Homo sapiens: one gene and its partners. The gene in region 3 interacts genetically with the main gene of each other region. Each region holds a gene or a part of one and is shown on either strand. Other genes may lie near its edges.

Region 1 (5,198 bases), on a different chromosome or scaffold from region 3:
ATACCTGTTTCCTTCCACAAGACAGAAAAATTAGATTCCAAGATAATTAAGATTTGCCCAAAACCCAAAGAAAAGTAATTGGAACTAAAACTAGAATTCTGTTTTTGGGACAATTGGCCATTTGTAGCAAAGGACAGCAGATCATTGGTTAAGAGCATAAACTTGAGCCAGATTGCCTGATTCAAATTCCGGCCCATTTAGTTCCTAAGCATGTAACTGTGTTAAACATCTTGACTTTTGTGGCTCACTTATTGATAAATGGGTATAATAATACTATTTACTTTAGAGGATTAAAGAAGTTAATATATGTAAAGCATTTAGAACAGTGAATGGCATATAATGTAATATATTAATATATTAATATTAATAAGACTAATATTAGGATTAATGTTTTGTTGGTATTAATAAAATAAATATATGCTATACTTATCAAAGATATATAAAGATGAAAGTATAAAACACTAGAGTAAAACATGGTTTTATAGTTTTATAATCTTGAAATGAAGAAACCTCTACTAAGTATGATTTAAAAATCTGTCAAGCATAAAAAAAGAATTTTACTACATAATCAAGAAACTATAGCAAAAGATACCATGAACAAAGTGAAAACATAACAGTAACCTGGGGGAAATACTTACAGCACATAACATTAGGCTAATTTTCTACTGTGTGAGAACAGCTAGAAATCATTAAGGAAATCGCAATGCTACAGAAAAAGCAAACAGCAGAGAAAGACACCCAAATGAGAGTCTCAGCATCATTCAAAGTTAACTACTGTAAACTAAAGTGTTTCTCACTTTTCAGATTGGCAGAGATTAATATATAGTCAGTATTGGGACAATGAGGCAATATGAAGCATTATTGATGGGAGGTATAAATTGATAGACCTTTTAAGAGATATTTGCCAATAATGTCAATTTTAAAAACATAAACCTTTTGAACTTCCAGTTTGACTTCTAGAAATTTGTCTTATAGCTTCATCATAAAAGTTGACCTCATAAATATAGATTAGTTCAACCCCAAGATATTCATCAATGGAGATTTGGTGAATAATGTTATATCTCTACAATAAAGTACTATATGTAAATTTTTAAAAGAATAATGAGGATTTATATATGCTAATACTTAAGGATATTCAGCATATATTAAGTAAAAGCAAGTTGCGGAACTGTAATATCCTTTTTGTGTGTTTAAAAAATCAAGTAAATTATATACATGCTTACATATGCATTACATAGATACATGGATATACAGAGGATGCATAAGCATTAACTGTAACTATATCTGGGAAATAGGATATAAGCTACTAGGCAGAGATTTTTAATTCATACTCTTTATTGTTTGAATTTTTTCTACAGTGGGTATATTGTTACTTTTCTAGTTAGGAAAAATAAAAACTGAGAAAAAAGTTTTAGCTGTGTGCAGTGGCTCATGCCTATAATCCCAGCATTTTGGGAGGTTGAGGGAGGAGAGTCACTTGACTCTAGGAGTTTAAGACCAGCCTGGGCACACAGTGAGACCCTGTCTCTACAAGAAAATAAATTTAGAAACATTGGCTGGGCCGTGGTGTATGGGAGACCAGCCTGGGCAACACAGTGAGAGCCTGTCTCTGTAAAAAATAAATAAGTAAAAATTAGCTGGTCACCATGGTGCACGCCTGTGGTCCCAGCTGCTCGGGAGGCTGAGGTGAGAAGATTGCTTGAGCCCAGGAGAACAAGGCTGTAGTGAACCATGATCATGCCATCGCGCTCTATAGCCATCACACTCTATAGAGCCTGGGGTCAGAGCGAGACCCTGTCTCAAAGTTTAAACTTCTTCCAGGATGGGTATATTAGTTACTGATAGCTGCATAACAAAATACCCCCTAAGCTTAACAACTTGTAAAACAACAACTATTTATTTCACAGTTTCTCAGGAAGATAAACTTGGGAGCAGCCTAGCTAGGTGGTTCTGGCTCAGGGTCTCTCATGAGATAACCTGTTGGCTGGGCTATAGTTATCTCAAGATTCTACTGAGTTTGGAGGATCTGCCTGAAAGCTCAGTCGTGGTTGTTGGCAGATCTTAGTTTCTCTTTGGCTGTTGGCCAGAGAGTTAAGTTCCTCCTTGCATGGGCTTCTTCATAGGGCTGTTCACGGCTTGGCAGGTTAGCTTCTTTCAGACTGGGGTATCTGAGAGAAAGAGAGCCAGAGCTCAAGACTGGGCTAACATGGAAGTGACATATCATCACCTTTGCCGTATGCTACTGTTCATACAGACCAGTCCTGGTACATTGTGAGGGAGGACTACAAGGGTGTGAATAACAGGAGGTGGGGATCATTGGGGGCCATGTTGGAGGCAGGCTACCATAATGGGTCTATAACAGTGTATACCTTTTGTAATAAGTTGGGATTATGGAAAAGAAAGTTAATTGCTTCAATATTTAAATGGGGGCTATTTTTAAAAATTAGTTATCTCTTTACAAATACCTGTAAATACTTGCTTTTTCAGGTCCAGCCCAGAATCAAATGCAGGTTCCATCTGGATATGGATTGCATCATCAAAACTATATTGCTCCCTCAGGACATTACTCTCAAGGACCTGGGAAAATGACCTCATTGCCATTGGATACCCAGTGTGGTGATTACTACTCTGCTCTCTATACAGTACCAACACAAAATGTGACTCCTAACACAGTGAACCAGCAACCAGGAGCACAGCAGTTGTACAGCAGGGGTCCTCCTGCCCCTCATATTGTGGGATCCACTCTAGGATCTTTCCAAGGTGCTGCATCGTCAGCATCCCATTTGCATACGAGTGCCTCCCAACCATACTCCTCTTTTGTGAATCACTACAATAGTCCAGCCATGTACTCTGCCAGCTCTTCTGTTGCGTCTCAGGGATTTCCCTCTACTTGTGGTCATTATGCTATGTCAACTGTTTCTAATGCCGCGTATCCTAGTGTTTCATATCCCTCTCTGCCTGCTGGTGATACATATGGGCAAATGTTTACCTCACAGAATGCTCCGACTGTTAGGCCAGTTAAAGATAATTCATTCTCTGGTCAAAATACAGCTATCAGCCATCCATCGCCACTTCCACCTCTACCATCACAACAGCACCACCAGCAGCAAAGTCTTTCAGGATACAGTACTCTAACGTGGTCATCTCCAGGCCTTCCATCGACTCAAGACAATCTCATCCGAAACCACACAGGATCCCTGGCTGTAGCGAACAACAACCCAACCATTACTGGTAGGTTGAATGAAAAGTTCACCAAAACATGTTTGAAAATCAGTGCATTCCCAATTAAGTTATTATTTACATGAAGGTTAGAGGTGATATTGCCTAATAGAAAAACTGGAAGTTTGCTAATTTATTGTGGCTTTTTGTAGCACCTCTTTGAACCCTTTCTTCTCATCCATTCCCAATTAGCCACCCAACCATCTGCCTTGTCTAGCTTGGTTCCTTGCCATGATCAGTCAACATTTATTGATATATTTTATACATCTGCAATAGTTGTCTTTAATGTGAATTAGATACAGGGCAAAATGGAAGGGTCTGTTTTGAGGATATGTTGGCCACTATTTTCTCTTTTATACTAGTTCAACCTTGGGACAGTTGTTTTTTTAGCCAGAGCCCCACTTACTTAGAAAAAAGGATGGTTTGCAGCAGTGCACTGGTTTCCCCAAGTTAGCCCCTATTAGTGACTTTTGCAGAAGACATCTTTCCTGCACGTAAACAGTGTTTCTCATTTTCAGATTAGTAAGTTAGGCTGAAAGATGGGGAAGGGAAAGGAAGATGCATGAAGAATACCCTGGTATTCAGCCCTTCTGACCTTCCTAAACCAAGGTGTTGTTAAATTTTTTCATTTAAAAATTATGTATGTAAGACGTGGCTTGCCCTTTTTTTTTTTTTTTGACACAGGGTCTCACTTTATCACCCAGGCTGGGCATGATCTCAGCTCACGGCAGCCTTGACCTCCTGGGCTCAAGCGATCCTCCCATCTCAGCCCCACAAGTAGCTGGGACTACCAGGCATACGCCACCACACCCAGCTAATTTTGTAGAGATGGGGTTTTGCCATGTTGCCCAAGCTGGTCTCGAACACGCGAGCTACTGTGCCTGGCCCAATGTGGCTTTTTAAGTGCAGTGTTTCCTTTCCCTAGGATATATTCATTTTAATTCAATTTGTGACTTGAATTTAACAGAATCTGCTTTTGAACCGAATGAAAATGCATGTAAAAAATGGGAATTGGTAAAGCTGTGGTAACTTTTGGAATGATGCCTTTAGATTGTGTATCATTATCTGGATAGCCATGTGTCAAAGATGCTGTGGAAAGATATCCTTCTCTGGACAATGAGATTATTTAAAATTAGAACTTTAATATTAGACCCAAGCTGTACATTTGAGATCATCTACTCTTTCATTGCTATGTCGTTTAGAAATGCTTTCAGATACAAGCAGCTAATAGTAGTTTAAACAAAAAGGGGGTATTTTCCTCACATCACAAGTCTAGGTGGATGCAGTGGATCCCGCTGTTCTTGGTATCCTTTTTTCTCTTTCCACTCTGCCACCTGCAGCATGTAGGTTATAGAAACAAGATACTTCTGTACCTATAGACATTAAGTCAGAATTAAAAGCACCAAGAAGGGAGAGGAAAGGGGACTGGTTAGTGGCATTGACAGACTTCATTTTACAGATCATTTGCCATAGCTGTTTAAAAGACCATTCCTAGCTTCAGGGAAGGCTGGAAAATGAATATTGAATCTTTTTTTTAGCATCCATAGTAGAGGCGAACAAGAAAAAAGGGAGTTAGCACTGACTTGGGTGAGTCAACTCAAAGTGTCTGTCACAGTTCCGAAATCTGGCTGTCTACCAGAATCACTGGCACAGATTGTGATATTCAACTACAAATTACTGAGCTAGAATAGAATCTCCAGGGTACTCTTGAGAATCTATTTCTAACTGGATCTTCAGTGATGCTGTGAAACACATCTAAATTTTACTGTAGTCCTTTTGTTTTACAAATGAAGAAAGTTATCCAAGTTGAATTGCCTGTGGTCATTAATGGTAGAAACAGAGCTTGGCCTAGAGGTCAGTTTCTTCTGTCTCCCTCAGAACCAGGGCTTTCTGTCCTCTAGAAATTGTTTTCCTCTCTCTTCTTTCAACATTCTATTTACAGATCCACTTATCCTAAAGTCCTTCCAACTTAAGGATTT
Region 2 (5,198 bases), on a different chromosome or scaffold from region 3:
CGTATTGTTACATTAAAAGCCACTGGTCTATCTTGTACTTTACACAGATTGTTTTCCATATATGATCTTATAATATCATGCTTTGGTCATTTGGAAAATCCTGGCTCACTGAACTATGCAGATCTTTCAAATATTGACCCATTCCATTATACAATATCAGAAAACCACATTTGTTAATATCATCATCAATCTAACAGGAAAAGTATTTGTGTCAAGCTCATGGTAGCATGTACAAGTTTTCCAAAATTCTATTTTTTATTTAGAAACTTGGATTATAATCATTGGCACAAATACTGTGACTTTTTCTTGAAGTGACAAGCTCATTTTCAAGAACATGGCTCCTGACTACCTAGCCTAAATAATCATTTTTTAAATTGTTCTTTCAAGTAAAAATGTTGAATCTGTGAAACAGTAAGTGGCTAGCTCAGCTTGCAACTCAAAACACCCAAGAGCTTTTCCTTGATGCAACTATCATTTTTCATAATTCAGCAGGAGTGATTTATGAGTATTTTCCATTTCACCTCACAGAACATGACAAAGGTGTGTACTCACAGGTTGGTATTTATTAGAATCACTAATTTTTTTTTTTTACTGTTTCAGTAAGCACATTCATAAGTGAAACCAGTATCCTTTTTTAAAATGCTATTAAGAATACAATGGGGGCTGGTGTGGTGGCTCATGCCTGTAATCCCAACACTTTGGGAGGCCAAGGCAAAGGGATCGCTCAAGCCTAAAAGTTTGAGGCCAGCCTGGGAAATATGAGACCTTCTCTCTACCAAAAAAAAAAAAAATTAAAAATTGGCTGAGCATGGCATCGTGCACCTGTAGTCCCAGCTACTCGGGGCGGGGGGCCGAGGTGGGAAGATAGCTTGAGCCCAGCTTGAGCCCAGGAGGCAGAGGTTGCAATGAGCTGAGATTATGACACTGTACTCCAGCCTGGGTGACACAGTGGGACCCTGTCCCACAAAAAAGAAAAAAAAAAGAAAAAATATGAATATTAGTACTATTTGGTGTTTGTTCGCCTTTGTTCTCAGTGAGGCTTCAGCAGTATCACCTAACACTGTAGGTGTAAATATCAACACATTAGAAAAGGCAGAAAGTCTTTCAAAGTACCACTATTAAAAGCAGAGGCAGAAAGAGAGATGAGATACAGAGCACATATGTATTCACAAAATTTAAGTAAGTAAACATCCACTAAGTGCAAGATACTGTGTACTGGCTTAGTAAATATGACTAAGACATGTATTATATGTCTTGTTATTATATATCATTATACTAGTATTATAATAAAAATATTTTTGACCTTGTGGGCCTCCTCAGAGGTCTCAAGGACTTCCAGTGATCTGTTGACCACACTTAGGTAAGTGGTAACCTTGATTATAGTCCTAAGGTTTCAACAGCTAGGCCTTCCAGAGCTACAGACATATTTTAGCATATGGATTTTGGCATATACTTTCCTATTAAACTATTCTTTAAGAAAAGTACTTCTAAAGTAATAATGAGGTATCTAAGAACATGATATTAAAATATAAAGAAAAAACCCAAATTAGAGTAAAATCTTAAGGCAGTGTACTCTTGCTACAGTTGGGTATCTCAATATTCTTCACTTGTTTTCAGCTATTTAATCTACTACTGTTTTTCCAAATCAGCTTGAGAACATTTCTTTCAACTACTCTGAATCTTTATGCCCCTGCTCAAAATCGTCTGAAGAGTCTTAAGTGCAGGCTTCTAGGATCAAAAGTTCTTGTGCAATACTTTCTCCCATCCTAAAGGTAATTCTACTGGCAAGAAACCTTTATATCTGGCAGCTTAAAATTAAGAAGAGAAAAACAGGCTGTTTGCTCTTCCAATTTCCCAACTCTTAAAAATTCAGGCTCCTCTCTCATTATATAGCCATGCAGAAACAGAATGTTAGGAAGCAGAATGGTCTACCTACTCTCTATAAAACCCTCATAGTCATTAGTACAAAGGAATGAATTTCCTTTCTATCCACATGACCAGCTTGTTACAGATTAACATCCCCACACTACTCTGGCCAGATCTTCCCTTTCTGATTAATAGCTGTAAATGTGCTTATATGTCATCACACTTGGAGTTATATATGAAAAATACACAATCCAGTGTCCTAATAACACAATCTGATGACAGAAGCCTGTTTATTAAAGGAGCCATGCCCTTTTCTCCTTTTCTAAACATTTCTCAACAAAATCTGTGCTGCTTTTGTGCTTCCTCTCTCTCCACGAGTACAGTACCAAAAAGAGCTATAATAATGCAAATCTTCTGACTTACGTTGACCCCACTGTCCACTACTGGGATTCAGATAGTTAGGATAAAGGCCTTGTGGTTTTTCCAGTTTGTTCAGTACTGTTCGAATATTCATTACCTATAATAGAAAATAAAATGTTACCGTGAAAATCTAAAAAACAATTTTCATGCCATTCTTCTTCTTCTTGAACATACAAGTTGACTTAAATGATGCAGAGTTAGAACAAAGATAACTGCTGTTAGCTTATTATTACAAACATAATGGCAGTAAGTGAATATAGTCACACTGATTAGTTATCTACCATTAGCCAGATGCCATACTAGGAACAAGGGGCCAGTGGATAAACAAAGTCACCACACTCTTAGAATTGTGCATCCTAGTGGGACGGGACAGACAATAAATCAATAAGTCTAGTCATGTGTCCCTTAATGACAGGGATACATGCTGGGAAACACAGGCAATTTAATTCTTGTACAAACATCATAGAGCACACTGTCACAAATGTAGTTGGCACAGCCTACTGTTTCTAGGTTACAAACCTGTGTAGCATATGTTACTGTACTGAAGTATTTGTGTATCTAAACACAGAAAAATACACTATAAAAGATGAAAAATGATACCTTTCTATAGGGTTATACATTTTATAACCCTATACATAAATACAGGGCACTTTGTATAGGGCATTTATCATGAATGAAACTCGCAGGACTGGAAGTTGCAGTGGATGAGTTAGTAAGTGAGTAATAAGTGAATGTGAAGGCCTGGGACGTTACTGTATAGTACTGTAAACTTTATAAACATGGTACACTTAGCCATTATTAATACATTTATAAAAGTATTTTTCTTTCAATAATAAATTAACGTTAGTTTACTGTAATTTTACTTTATAAACTTTTTAATTAAAAAAATTTTGACTCTTTTGTAATAACCATTAGCTTAAAACACACTTTGTATAGTTGTACCAAAATATTTTCTTTCTTTATATTCTTATAAGTTTTTTCTATTTAAAATTTCTTTTTAAAGTTGTTTAACTTTTTAAACTTTTTGTTAAAAACTAAGACACATATACACATTAGCTTAGGACTCCACAGGACCATCAATATCACTGTCTTCCACTTCTACATCTTATCGCACTGGAAGGTCTTTCAGGGGCAGTAGCACGCATGGAGCTGTCAACTCCTGTGATGATAATGCCTTGAAGAGGAATACCTCTTGAAGGACCTTGCTTCTAGAGCTAACTTAAAAAAAAAGTGGTACATTCTAAAATAACAATAAAAACCATAGTAGTACATAAATCAGTAATGCAGTCATTTAATTATCAAATATTATGTACTGTACATAATTATATGTGCTATACTTTTATGTGACTGGGAGTAGAGTATGTTTATGCCATCACCACCACAAACATGTAAGTAACGCATTGCACTACGACATTATGACAACTATGATGTCACAAGGCCGTAGGAATTTTGTCAACTCCATTATAAACTTACAGGACCACTGTCACATATGTGGTCCACTGTTGAATAAACACTGTTAAGTAACACCTAACTGTATAGTATGTCAGGAGATGATAAATACTGTGGAAAAAAATAAAAGGGTGCTATGGATTGAACTGCATACCCCTAATTTCATATGCTGAAACCCTACTTCCCAGTGTGATTGTATTTGGAGATTTATTTGGAGATGGTAATTAGGTTATGACGGTAGAGCCTTAAATGGGATTAGTGCCCTCATGAGAGACACAAGAGCTCTCTCTCTCTCTCTGTGACTCCTTCTCTCCCTCAGAGCACAAAGAAGACATCATGTGAACACACACTGGGACAGTTCTCGTCATCTACAAGCCCAGGGAAGAGGCTCAGAATAAAACCTACCTCATGGGCAGTTTGATCTTGGATTTCCCAGCCTCCAGAACTGTAAGAAATAAATTTCGGTTGTTTCTGGCTGCATTTTTGTTATGGTAACCCGAGCTGATTGAGAGTTAACGGGACAGGGTGATGTGGAGAGGCTATCCCATGTTAGTCAGAGTGGCCTGGCAAGGCGGAGGTGTTTGAGCAGAATATTAAAGAAGTGAGGGAGTAGGCCACGTGGAAATGTGGAGGAAGAGCACTCGGAACAGAGAGAGGAGCAAGTACAAAGGCCCTGAGGAGACAGCAGGTTTGCAATGCTACTGAGGCCAGAGGTGAGGAGACAAAGGGGAGAATGTCAGCAGGTAGAGGAGAGGAGAGCCAGGGCCCAGGTCACCCAGGCCCCACAGGCCACAATAAGGGCATATTTTACTCTGAGTGTCATGAGAAGGCTGAGGGGGTGAGGAAGGGGTGGTCAGGTGGCTACTGTATGGTGTACATACAGTACACCAGGTGACCTGATGGATCCCAGATCAGGACAGCAGTAGAGGCAGTGAGACACCCAAAGGATTTCTTAGTGGACTGGGCCTGGGGTTTACCAAGAAGAAGAACCAGGAGGAGACCACTGGGTACAGTGAGATGTCATTTACCAAGATAGCAAAGACTGGAGAAGCACGTCTAGGCGTTAAGTCCGAGGCATTTTAAGTGGGACTTGTCTATCGGGCCTCTTAGTGGAGATGTTTAATAAACAGATATAGAGTCTGGAGTTCAGGGGACAGGTTGGGACTGAAATAATAAACTTGGAGTCTAGAGTATAGAGATGGTATGTAAAGCCCAGAGACTAGATGCAACAATGTAGGGAGTGAATATCAACAAGCAGAGGCACAGGATTGAGTGCTAGGGCTTTCCAATATTTAGAGGGTGGGGTGTTGAGGAGGACACAAAAAAGACAGAAGGAGCATCCAGCAAAAGAGGAGACAAACTGGGAGAGTATTACATGCCAAGCGCGAAGTGTATCTCAGGAACGAAGAACTGACTGTGTCGAATGCTAAGAGGGCAAGGAAGATGAAGGGGAGAATGGTAAG
Region 3 (5,198 bases):
GCTCTCATTCTAAGAAATAACAGTAGAGAGTTCTATTGAAGGAGTATATTTTCCTTACTAACCTAGATACTATATGTTAATCCAGCCTTTGCATTAATTATGAGCACCATTTTATAAGAGCCTAAGAACTTTAGGCTTGATGTTTATTGAATTCACAGTTGTGGTACTTCTAATTACCTCACTGTCAACAGCAACAAGACATCCTTCGAGACAATACCACTAATTTGGAGTTATTAATAAAGAACAGTTCACTTGGCTTTTACACACATAAAGCCAGACGTAGAATGCTACTGCAACTTTTAGGAAATCCAAGTTGACAAGGTATTCGAAGGAAGGTATGATTCTCACAAAGGAATCCAAACTTCAACATAGGAATATTTTAGTACCTTCAACTAAAATGTTACATGCTGTAAAATATGGTGCCCCTTTACATAGTTTAATGGAAAACAACCTAAGAGATGTGAAATTACTACAGGAATCAAATGAGCTAAATATGGAACATAAGCAAAAATAATGTTAAAATCTGAAACCTAACTAAAAACACTTGTATAATGGACCAATGGATTACAATACATCAATATAAAGGTGGTATTTATCTTTAAACTGGTCTTGTATTATACCACGCCACCCAAAGAGAATGGCTAGAAATAAGTTACCTAAAACAGTGTGAGCACAATAAAACACTTCCAAATAGCAAAAAACGTTATGTTTCAACTTCAAACAAAAGATGGAAAAGCACTTTAATGGCTACATAGTTTAATTTTTTTCTTTAATAACTGCGAAATGGCAAAACAAACATTAACTTAGTGATTTTAGATTAAAAGGAAAGGAGCAAGATCATACTGCTCTCATAAGACTCCAGGGATTGGTATACAGTGCAAGTAATTTAAAAAATAAATAAATAAATATAGTCTTTACTTGTTTTATTCCTTCATCTGGAGATTAAAATCTTCTATGTCAAATGTAAGTGAATGTCTGCCTGACAGGCTACATGAAACACACTTTCTTATAAGGAAACAGTTCCATGGAGACTGTTCACAGCTATGTAAACCTGAAAGTCATTGCCCTGCAGTTTCCAACTTACAGCACTTAGAACTTCATCTCTGTGCCCTTCTACGCCTCCAAATATTGCCACCAGAGTGTCCGTCTGGATATTCCATAATCGTAAAGCATGATCTAGTATAAACATACAAAAATTAGGCGAATGTTTTTTATTTACTGTGAACTTTCAACATCTTGTGAAAGAAAAACTACTAAAGTCTAGATGTAAGTTATGCACAGTAAAGCCTAAAAATGGAATCCATATTACATAGCAACTTAAAATGTTTACATCAGATGTAGAATTAGCTAGGTAAGTGCTATAGTTTGAATAGGCCCCCCCAAAAGCATGTGCTAGAAACTCAATCCCCAATGCAATAGTGGTGTGAGCTGGGGCCTAATGGGAGGTATTTAGGTCATGGGGGCTCCATCCTCACAAATGGATTAATACTGATTATAAAAGGGCCTGAGGCTATAAATTCAATCTCTTGCTCCCTCACACCCTCTCCTGCCCTTTTGCTGAGACGATTCAGCATGAAGGCTCTCACCAGATGCCGGCACCATGTTCTTGGACTTCCCAGTCTCCAGAAACAGGAGCCAAATAAATTTTTGTTCATTATAAATCACCCAGTCAGGTACGGTGGCTCATGCTTGTAACCCCAGCACTTCAGAAGGCCAAGATGGGAGGACTGCTTAAGCCCAGGAGTTTGAGACTAGCCCTAGCAATATAGCAAGACCCTGTCTCAACAAAAAATTTAAAAATTAGTGAAGCCTGAGCAATAGAAAAGAAATTAATTAATCCATCAGTCAGTCACCTAGTCTGTGGTATTGTGTTATAGCAGCACAAAATGGACTCAGACAGAATGTTGGTACTCAGAAACGGGACTATTGCTATAAATACCTGAAAATGTGGAAATGACTTTGGAACTGGGTAACGAGGAGAGGCTGGAAGAATCTGGAGGAGCAGGCTAGAAAAAGCCTATATTGGTGTGAGTGGAGCATTGAGGGTAATTCCAGTGAGGGCTGAAAAGAAGACAAGAGCTTCAGGCAGAGCCTTTATCTTCTTAAGGATTACTTAAGTGGTTGTGATCAGAATGTTGGTAGAACAATGTTGGTCTCAGACAGAATGAGGTTGGTCTCATTCAGTGAGGTCTCAGACAGAAATGAGAAGTTATTGGAAAATGGAGTAAGAGCTATCCCTGTTGGCAGGGTGTGATGGTTCATGCCTGTAATCCCAGCACTTTGAGATTGAGGCAGGAGGATCACTTGAGGCCAGGAATTCAAGACCAGCCGGGGTAACATAGTGAGACCCAATCCCTACAGAAAATAAATTAGCCAGGTGTGGTGGCGTGTACCTGCAGTTCTAGCTACTTAGGGGACTGAGGCAAGAGGATCAATTGAGCCTAGGAGTTTTGGGCTGCAGTGAGCTATGATCATGCCACTGCACTGCCTGGGTGACAGAGACCAACCCTGTCTTTAAAAGAAAAAAAAAAAAAGCCAGGCCAGGTGTGGTAGCTCATGCCTGTAATTCCAGCAGCATGGGAGGCTGAGGTGGGTGGACACTTGAGCTCAGGAATTCGAGACTAGCCTGGGCAACATGGTGAAACTCCATCTCTACAAAAAATACAAAAACTAGCGGGGTGTGGTGGCATGTGCCTGTAGTCCCAGCTACTCGGGAGGCTGAAGTGGAAGGATCACTGGCATGGTGCCGGCATCCGGTGAGGGCCTTCATGCTGAATCGTCTCACAGCAAAAGGGAAGGAGAGGGTGTGAGGGAGCAGAGGTTGTGCCACTGCACTCCAGCCTGGGTGACAAGAATGAGACCTTGCCTCAAAAAAATAAATTAAATAAATAAATAAAAGCCATCCTTGCAATACAGTTGTGAAGAACTTAGCAGGACTGTGTCCATGCCCTAGGACTTTGTGGAAGGCAGAAGTTAAGAGCAATGAATCCAATACCTGGCAGAAGAAATATCTGAGCATCAAAGCATTCACAGTGATGCATGGCTTCTTCTGGCTGCTTATCATAAAATGAGAAATGATCTAAAGGTGAAATTTGTAATTAAAAAGGAAAGCAAAACAGAAACATTTATAAACTCTCAGCCTGGCCATGTAAAGAAAAAAAAAGCAGGCTGGGTGTGGTGGCTCACACCTGTAATCCCAACACTTTCGAAGGCTGAGGTGGAAGGATCATTTGAGCCCAGAAGTTCAAGACCAGCCTGGGCAACATAGCAAGTCCTTGTCTCTTCAAAAAATATATAAAATAAAAAAGCATGTTTGAGAGAGAATATTAAGGATGTAGCTAAGTGACTAATTGCTAAGGAGATTAATAGGGAAGAGAAGGCAGGTTCTATTCACCAAGACAATGGGATAATGACCACAAAGGCATTTCAGAGATCTTCAAGACATAGCTAAGACCTTGAGGGCAAGGTTTCCAGAGTAGCACCCATGGGACCTCTACATTCACTGTCCAGGGCCACTTCAGCACTTTGCTCCCCCTATTCCAAGGCAGTGCTCTTTGGTCACCCCATAGCTTGAAGGGGCTCAAGTATGGCTCAGGCCATAGCTTCTGAAGGTACAAGCAGCAAATCTTGGCAGTGTCCATGTGGTGTTAAGTCTGCAGATGCAGAGAATGCAGGAACTGTGGAGGCACGGCTTCCTCTCTAGATTTCAAAAGACATCACAAAGAGCCTGGGGCTCCAGGCAGAAACTTTTCAGAAGGGCAGAGCCACACAGCAGTTCCTACTACAGCAACACCTGGTGGAGCCATGGGGAAAAAGCCATCCCCCAAATCCCAGAACTGCTGAGCTACCAGGGCACACCACCAGCCTGCAAGAGCTGCAGGCACCCGACTCCAACTCATAAGATGCTATGTGGGCTGCACGTGGCAAACCCATAAAGATGGGGCTGCCCAAGGCCTCTGGGGCCCAAACTCCACACCCAGCATGCCCAGAAGGCAAAACATGGAGCCAAGGAAGATTATTCTGGTGCCTTGGATTTAATCTTGTTTGTTCTGTTGAGTTTTGGATTTACTTGGGACCAGTTACCCTTATTCTTGCCTATCTCTCCTTTTTGGAAGGGACTGTCTATCCTATGCTTATCCTACCACTGTATTTTGAAAATAGATAAGATGCCTGATTTCCCAGACCCACAGATGGAGAATTTACCTCAGCAGGAATCCTGCCTTGAGTCTCACCCATATCTGATTGAGGATTTGAATTTTGGGGGCTAGAGGCAGAATGCTACAGCTTAAATGAACCCCCGAAAAAGCAGGTTGGGAAACTTAATCCCAATGCAGCAGTGTTGGGAGATGAGACCTAATGAGAAGCGTTAGGTCATGAGAGTACCACTCTTATGAATGAATTAATTCCAATTATATATTAAAAAAAAAAAAGGCTTCAAGTTCAATTTCTTGTTCTTACTTTCTAATGCCAGGTTAAAGTGGACTAAGACAGTAAGTTCAGAAATATTCATGTGGTCTGAAAAATATTTTAAGCATATTTATCTCAAATAACTTTCTTTAAATAACCTAATTTGATGGAAATATACTTTTGAAATAAAATACAGATTTGACATAAGCAATTTTATCCCACAGAACAAGATACTAGCTTTTCCCTTCACCATACTCACATTAAAAAATTGAAAGGGGACTGAGATTTATGATTTTTACAGTAAGCTGAAAACATAACTACATATATCATGCACAATTTTATAGAATGACAGTCCCTCTTCAAAAATTATGCAGCTATAATTTGAGCAATGTTATATTAAACATTAATAAAGAATGTACAGCAGTAGCTCACACCTGTAATCCCAGCACTTTGGGAGGCCAAGGTGTGAGGATCTTTTGAGGCCAGGAGTTTGAGACCAGGTTGGACAACATAATGAAACCGTATCTCTACAAAAAATTTTTAAAAATTAGCCAGGCATGGTGGTGTGCACATGTAGTCCCAGCTACTCAGAAGGATGAGGTGGGAACATTGCTTGAGGCCAGGAGCTCAAGCTACAGTGAGCTGTGATCACATCACTCTACTATAGCCTGGTTGACAGAGTGAGATCCTGTCTCTAAAACAGTATTTAAAAAAAAGAAAGAATGTAAAGCAAAGACACGTCATGTAAGCTTGAAATATAACAATGTTCATTCTGTCTGTGAATATAAATG
Region 4 (5,198 bases), on a different chromosome or scaffold from region 3:
GCCTCCTGAGTAGCTGGGATAACAGGTGCATGCCACCATGCCAGGCTAATTTTTTTTTGCACTTTTAGTAGAGATGGGGTTTCACCATATTGGTCAGGCTGGTCTCGAACTCCTGACCTCGTGATCCACCTGCCTCGGCCTCCCAAATTAGAGGCGCGAGCCACCATGCCCGGCTAAATTATCTACATATTTTCTATGACTGTATCTTGCTTTTAAAGCACATGTACTGTCTGTCCAGATTACCTCTGCTGCCTTGAATACAAAGCATTTCATATTGCTGTCACTCCTGCGTAGTGCAAACACTTTCCAATGAAGTAGACAGAACTTCAGAAAATACCCTAAGGAGCCATGTTAAAAACGACCAAGACTTGTTCAACTAGCAACAAAGATGGCCCCTAACGCTGCAATAAGTTTAAACTTTGATCCTTAGTTCTAAGTGAATCAATCCCAATTAAAATGCAGGACTTCATCTACTGTATTTTATTAACATAGTTGAGTATCTTAATCCTAGCTGTGAACTAAATATTCAGCACCCCAAGGCTGAATATGGTATTCAGTTTAAAACACCTACTCCACAACAGAAGTCTCCTTGCTTTCACATTGGCTTCCACCAAATTGTAAAATTAAATGACAAGCATAAAGTTATACAACTCAGCATAGATAACTATCCAAGTGATATGCAGTATCATTCAGGAATTTAGGCTCCTTTGTGGGACATTTTATCATCTTTTAAAGCAAGTTAAGTTTAGAGGCAATAAAGACAAAATGCCGGGGTTTAAACCCTACTGCTGCCTTTTTTTAAGACAGGGTCTCACTCTGTCTCCCAGGCTGGAGTGCACTGGCTCCATGACAGCTCATTGCAGCCTTGACCTCCTGGGCTCAGTTGGTCCTCCCACCTCAGCCTCACCAGTAGCTCGGACTACAGGCACCCACCAACACACCCGGCTAATATTTTTGCAGAGATCAGGTTTTACTATGTCGCCCAGGCTAGTCTTCCAACTCCTGGGCTCAAGCTGCCCACCTCAGCCTCCCAAAGTGCTGGAATTCCAAACATGAACCACTCCACCTGGCCCCCTGCCTCTTACTAATTGTGTAACATTAAGAAAAAATATTAAAGTCCAAGATTGTTTTCCCATCTGTAAAAAGAGCATACCTCAGATATTTGCAGAGGGTTAAAACTAGTTAACACACTTAAAGGACACAGAATAGTCTGACACACATCCTAAATGATTGATAGAAGTTACTATTTTGAAGGGGTAAAGCACTATAAGCACTATCTAAACATAATTTAATAAAGCAAACTTTTTATTTACTCAATGGCTTAATTTTTTAAAACTGCATAGGCTTTATAAACTTTCCAACATTAAAAGGAAAAGGCCACAATGAGTTTTATATAAACATATTCTAATATTTTCAATGCTGCCAACTTGAAATAACCCAGAAATTTTTAAATAGTCCATGTAAAAAAATATATAAACTAAAAATTAGGTGGTATTTCAACTAAGACCCTTTAAATGTAGCTTCCAAAATCACCTTGATGACTTGGTCTACCCTACATTTATGCCAGTAATTTTAGTAAAGAATAATTTAAAACATAAAAGGAAATATACATGGAGCAATCCTGGCTGGTGGAAAATGTTCCGATTTAATAATCCTGGCTTTTCCCCATCAATAAACTTATTCTCTGGACTATTTAGGTCACTAGGTTTTTAACATTCCCAGTCAATATTAACTATTTTATTCCAAGATACCTCCCCTAATAAGTCTTTATTGTCAAACACCTTATTCAAGGTAAAAAGTTAGCCATTATACTCACTCCCAATTTTGGAATAGTATTCTTTTTCTATGTTCTATAACTTCGTATTATTTTTACTTTTTTAGAGACGAGATCTTGCTCTGTTACCCAGGCTAGTCACAGAACTCCTGGACATAGCGATCAGCCTCCCAAAGTGCTAGGATTACAGGCATGAGCCACCACACCCAGCCAATCCTTTAACTTTTAAACACTTCCTAACAACTTATGATCTTACATACATGGCTTTATAACAAGTTCTGACAGTTTAAAAAATACAACAGAATGTCAACCTGATATACATTTCAGGTATAAAACATAAATGACCAATCACTGTCATCTTTTAAAGTAATGTTACTCAAGCACACCATTAAATCCTTACTGAATTTTTCCAGTATTTTATCCATCATAATTATTCTTCTAAAATCCTAAAATGACAAACTAAAGCTAAGTCACTAGTTACCTAAGGGGAAGGGAGGAGGTTACAATGCAACTAGATAATATCACACGTTAGGGTATTTTACAAGTTGTATGAAAACTACCTTGGGAGAGAGCTTGACAAGCTTTCATCGAGTTCAAATACTAACCAGCCTTTTTAGATCTGATCTGGTATAAAATTCATGAAAACCACTTTTTTGAGACAGAGTCTCGCTCTATTGCCAGGCTGTGGTGCAATGGTGTGATCCTGGCTCACTTCAACCTCTGCCTCCCAAGTTCAAGCAATCTTCCCATCTCAAGCTCCTGGGTAGCTGAGACTATGGGTGCACACCACGAGGCCCAGCTAATTTTTTTTTTTTTTTTTTTTTTTTGTAGAGACAGGATCTCATCATGTTGCCCAGGCTGGTCTGGAACTCCTGGGTTCAATCTGCCCACCTCAGCCTCCCAAAGTGCTATATTACAAGCGTGAGCCACCGCACCCAGCCCACTTTTTTTAACTATTTAAAACTAATGAGACATTAAGGTTAGCCAATAACAAATCTTCCCCAAAAAACACTTTAGTCAATAAAAATATAAATTTTGGTATTATTTCCCCATCATTAAAGAATAGGTATTCCTCTCCCCCAGCTTTCTACAGATGACATTTTCAAGGTAAGTGTGAAAAAGAATTCCATTTATTCAAGACTAATATACAATGGACCAAACATTTTCAGAGACTTCTCTGTATTAAATCTCATTACTTCACACTTTAGAATGAACCTAACTAAATGACTACTAAAAAGCGAAGTTGAAAAAATAAACATCTAATAAATGAAACATGACAGTTTTTTTGGGAGGGGGACAGAGTCTCGCTTTGTCGCCCAGGCTGGAGTGCGGTGGCGCGATCTTGGCTCACTGCAACCTCTGCTTCCCGGGTTCAAGCTCTTCTCCTGCCTCAGCCTCCCAAGTAGATGGGACTACAGATGCCCACCATCATGCCCGGCTAATTTCTGTATTTTTAGTAGAGACAGGGTTTCAACATGTTGGCCAGGTTGGTCTCGAACTCCTGACCTCAGGTGATTCGCTTGCGTCAGCCTCCCAAAGTGCTGGGATGACAGGCATAAGCCACCGCGCCCGGCCAACATGACAGTTTTTTAAATAAACTTTTTTTTTCTTTTTTTGAGACGGAGTCTTGCTCTGTTGCCCAAGCTGGAATGCAGTGGTGCAACCTTGTCTCACTGCAACCTCCGCCTCCAGGGTTCAAGTGATTCTCCCGCCTCAGCCTCCTGAGTGACTACAGGCGCATGTAACCACACCTGGCTAATTTTTGTATTTTTAGTAGAGCTGGGGTTTCGCCATGTTGGCCAGGCTGGTCTCCAATTCCTGACCTTAGGTGATCCACCCATCTTGGCCTCCCAAAGTGCTGAGATTACAGGTGTGAGCCACTACGCCTGGCCTAAAAATAAAACACTTTAAGAGACCAGGTCTCACTATCAAAATGCAGTGGCTCCATCATAGCTTCCTGCAGCCCTGAGCTCCTTCCTGGGCTCAACACATTCTCCTGCCTCTGCCTCCTGAGTAGATGTAACTACAACTACAAACACACCCCCCAACACACTAGCCTTTTTTTTTTTTTTTTTTTTAAAGAAACAGGGGTCATATTATGTTGCCTAGCTGGTCTAGAAATCCTGGCATGAAATGATCCTCATACCTCAAGACTTCTGAGTAGCCAGTGATTACAGGCACGAGCCACTACTTTAATTAACTTTAAATGCTTAATCCAATACCTCCTTTTCACTTCACTACAAGGAAGCAATGACATCTTGTATGTTTACGTTTTAAATAAGCTCTCAATCAGCTTTGTAAGGTAAACTCCCATTTACCTAGAGGTTAAGGAATAGGTATTTTCCTTAACCTGAAGGTTAAGGTTCTGGTTAACTGAGATTACTACATATTCACAATTCTATAAAACTGTGTACTGGAAATCAATTTAGGTATCAATGCTGAAGTCAGAAAATGATTTGTACCTTGATGAATTTTCCAACGTTTTAAAATCATGTTACTTTTCAAAAGTGTAAGGAAAAATCTGTAGGAGATTCATTCCATGACATTGTCTGTTGGTTGCTTTTTGAGTATATTTTCTCATGGCTTCATCTATCTTGCTCATAAGACTAAATGGGGAGACAGACTTCCTGGCTGTGTGGGCTCTGTGGTAGTCTGAAGTCTAGATAAGCAGGAGTTTACAGTGCAAGACCCAATACTTAAACTGTCACCTTGATTACTGGCCAAGCACCACCAGTAAATTGGAGTCTTCCCTCCCCACCCCCAAATATTCTTAAATACCTAGCTCCAACGTACAATATAATACTCCAGAAACTAAAACATGCTTACCTTTACTCCACAGGAGTAAATCACTGGCAGTATCAACTATTAGGGCACTGGATAAATACACACAAGCTATGAAAGCAGGCTATGTAGTCAATCCTCCTGTGGTGAGCATTGTTTCCAACACATAGATCAGCAAACCAAGTAACAAACATGTCGTATTACCTGAAACCACACTGTTGGAAGTGAAGCAACAGAAAGAGATCCCACGCTTTCAGCATCCAGTTCAGTGCCCTATCTACTAAAACGTTGAAGCAGAACTGAAGTCAAATCAAGCTTGGACTAACATAAGTTATGTTTCACCCATTTGTAAATGTGCACACACTTGAGGTACACAGCTTCCAAGTGGAATGGGAAAAAAAATTACTCTATTCCTTTTTAAATGCTTTCAAGCATGGTATGTATTATGACTTGAAGGCTAAAACTAATCACATCCTTCACGTTGGCATAAATAGTATACTCAATATGTATACTCAAATGTATACTCAATAGTATACTCAAAATGTTCTCGTATTAGGGCAGCCTTACCCTAATATTATGTATTAGGACGATAGCAGAGTACCCAGGAAATATTAAAAACATACACTGAGTTTGTAGAAAGGGT

Evidence for each region.
Region 1: changes in EED (region 3) and SEC24B together harm fitness more than expected from each alone (negative genetic interaction), as found in Homo sapiens cells (one large-scale study listed by BioGRID).
Region 2: changes in EED (region 3) and MAN1A1 together harm fitness more than expected from each alone (negative genetic interaction), as found in Homo sapiens cells (one large-scale study listed by BioGRID).
Region 4: changes in EED (region 3) and HNRNPD together harm fitness less than expected from each alone (positive genetic interaction), as found in Homo sapiens cells (one large-scale study listed by BioGRID).

The regions. Positions count from the first base shown.
Region 1 is NC_000004.12:109,460,414-109,465,611, forward strand, and holds part of SEC24B (protein transport protein Sec24B), read left to right. Parts: intron 1-2,487; coding exon 2,488-3,231; intron 3,232-5,198. UniProt on the Homo sapiens protein: Component of the coat protein complex II (COPII) which promotes the formation of transport vesicles from the endoplasmic reticulum (ER).
Region 2 is NC_000006.12:119,198,965-119,204,162, forward strand, and holds part of MAN1A1 (mannosyl-oligosaccharide 1,2-alpha-mannosidase IA), read right to left. Parts: intron 2,384-5,198; coding exon 2,290-2,383; intron 1-2,289. UniProt on the Homo sapiens protein: Involved in the maturation of Asn-linked oligosaccharides. Progressively trim alpha-1,2-linked mannose residues from Man(9)GlcNAc(2) to produce Man(5)GlcNAc(2).
Region 3 is NC_000011.10:86,260,150-86,265,347, reverse strand, and holds part of EED (polycomb protein EED), read right to left. Parts: intron 1,177-5,198; coding exon 1,085-1,176; intron 1-1,084. UniProt on the Homo sapiens protein: Polycomb group (PcG) protein. Component of the PRC2/EED-EZH2 complex, which methylates 'Lys-9' and 'Lys-27' of histone H3, leading to transcriptional repression of the affected target gene.
Region 4 is NC_000004.12:82,363,195-82,368,392, forward strand, and holds part of HNRNPD (heterogeneous nuclear ribonucleoprotein D0), read right to left. Parts: intron 1-5,198. UniProt on the Homo sapiens protein: Binds with high affinity to RNA molecules that contain AU-rich elements (AREs) found within the 3'-UTR of many proto-oncogenes and cytokine mRNAs.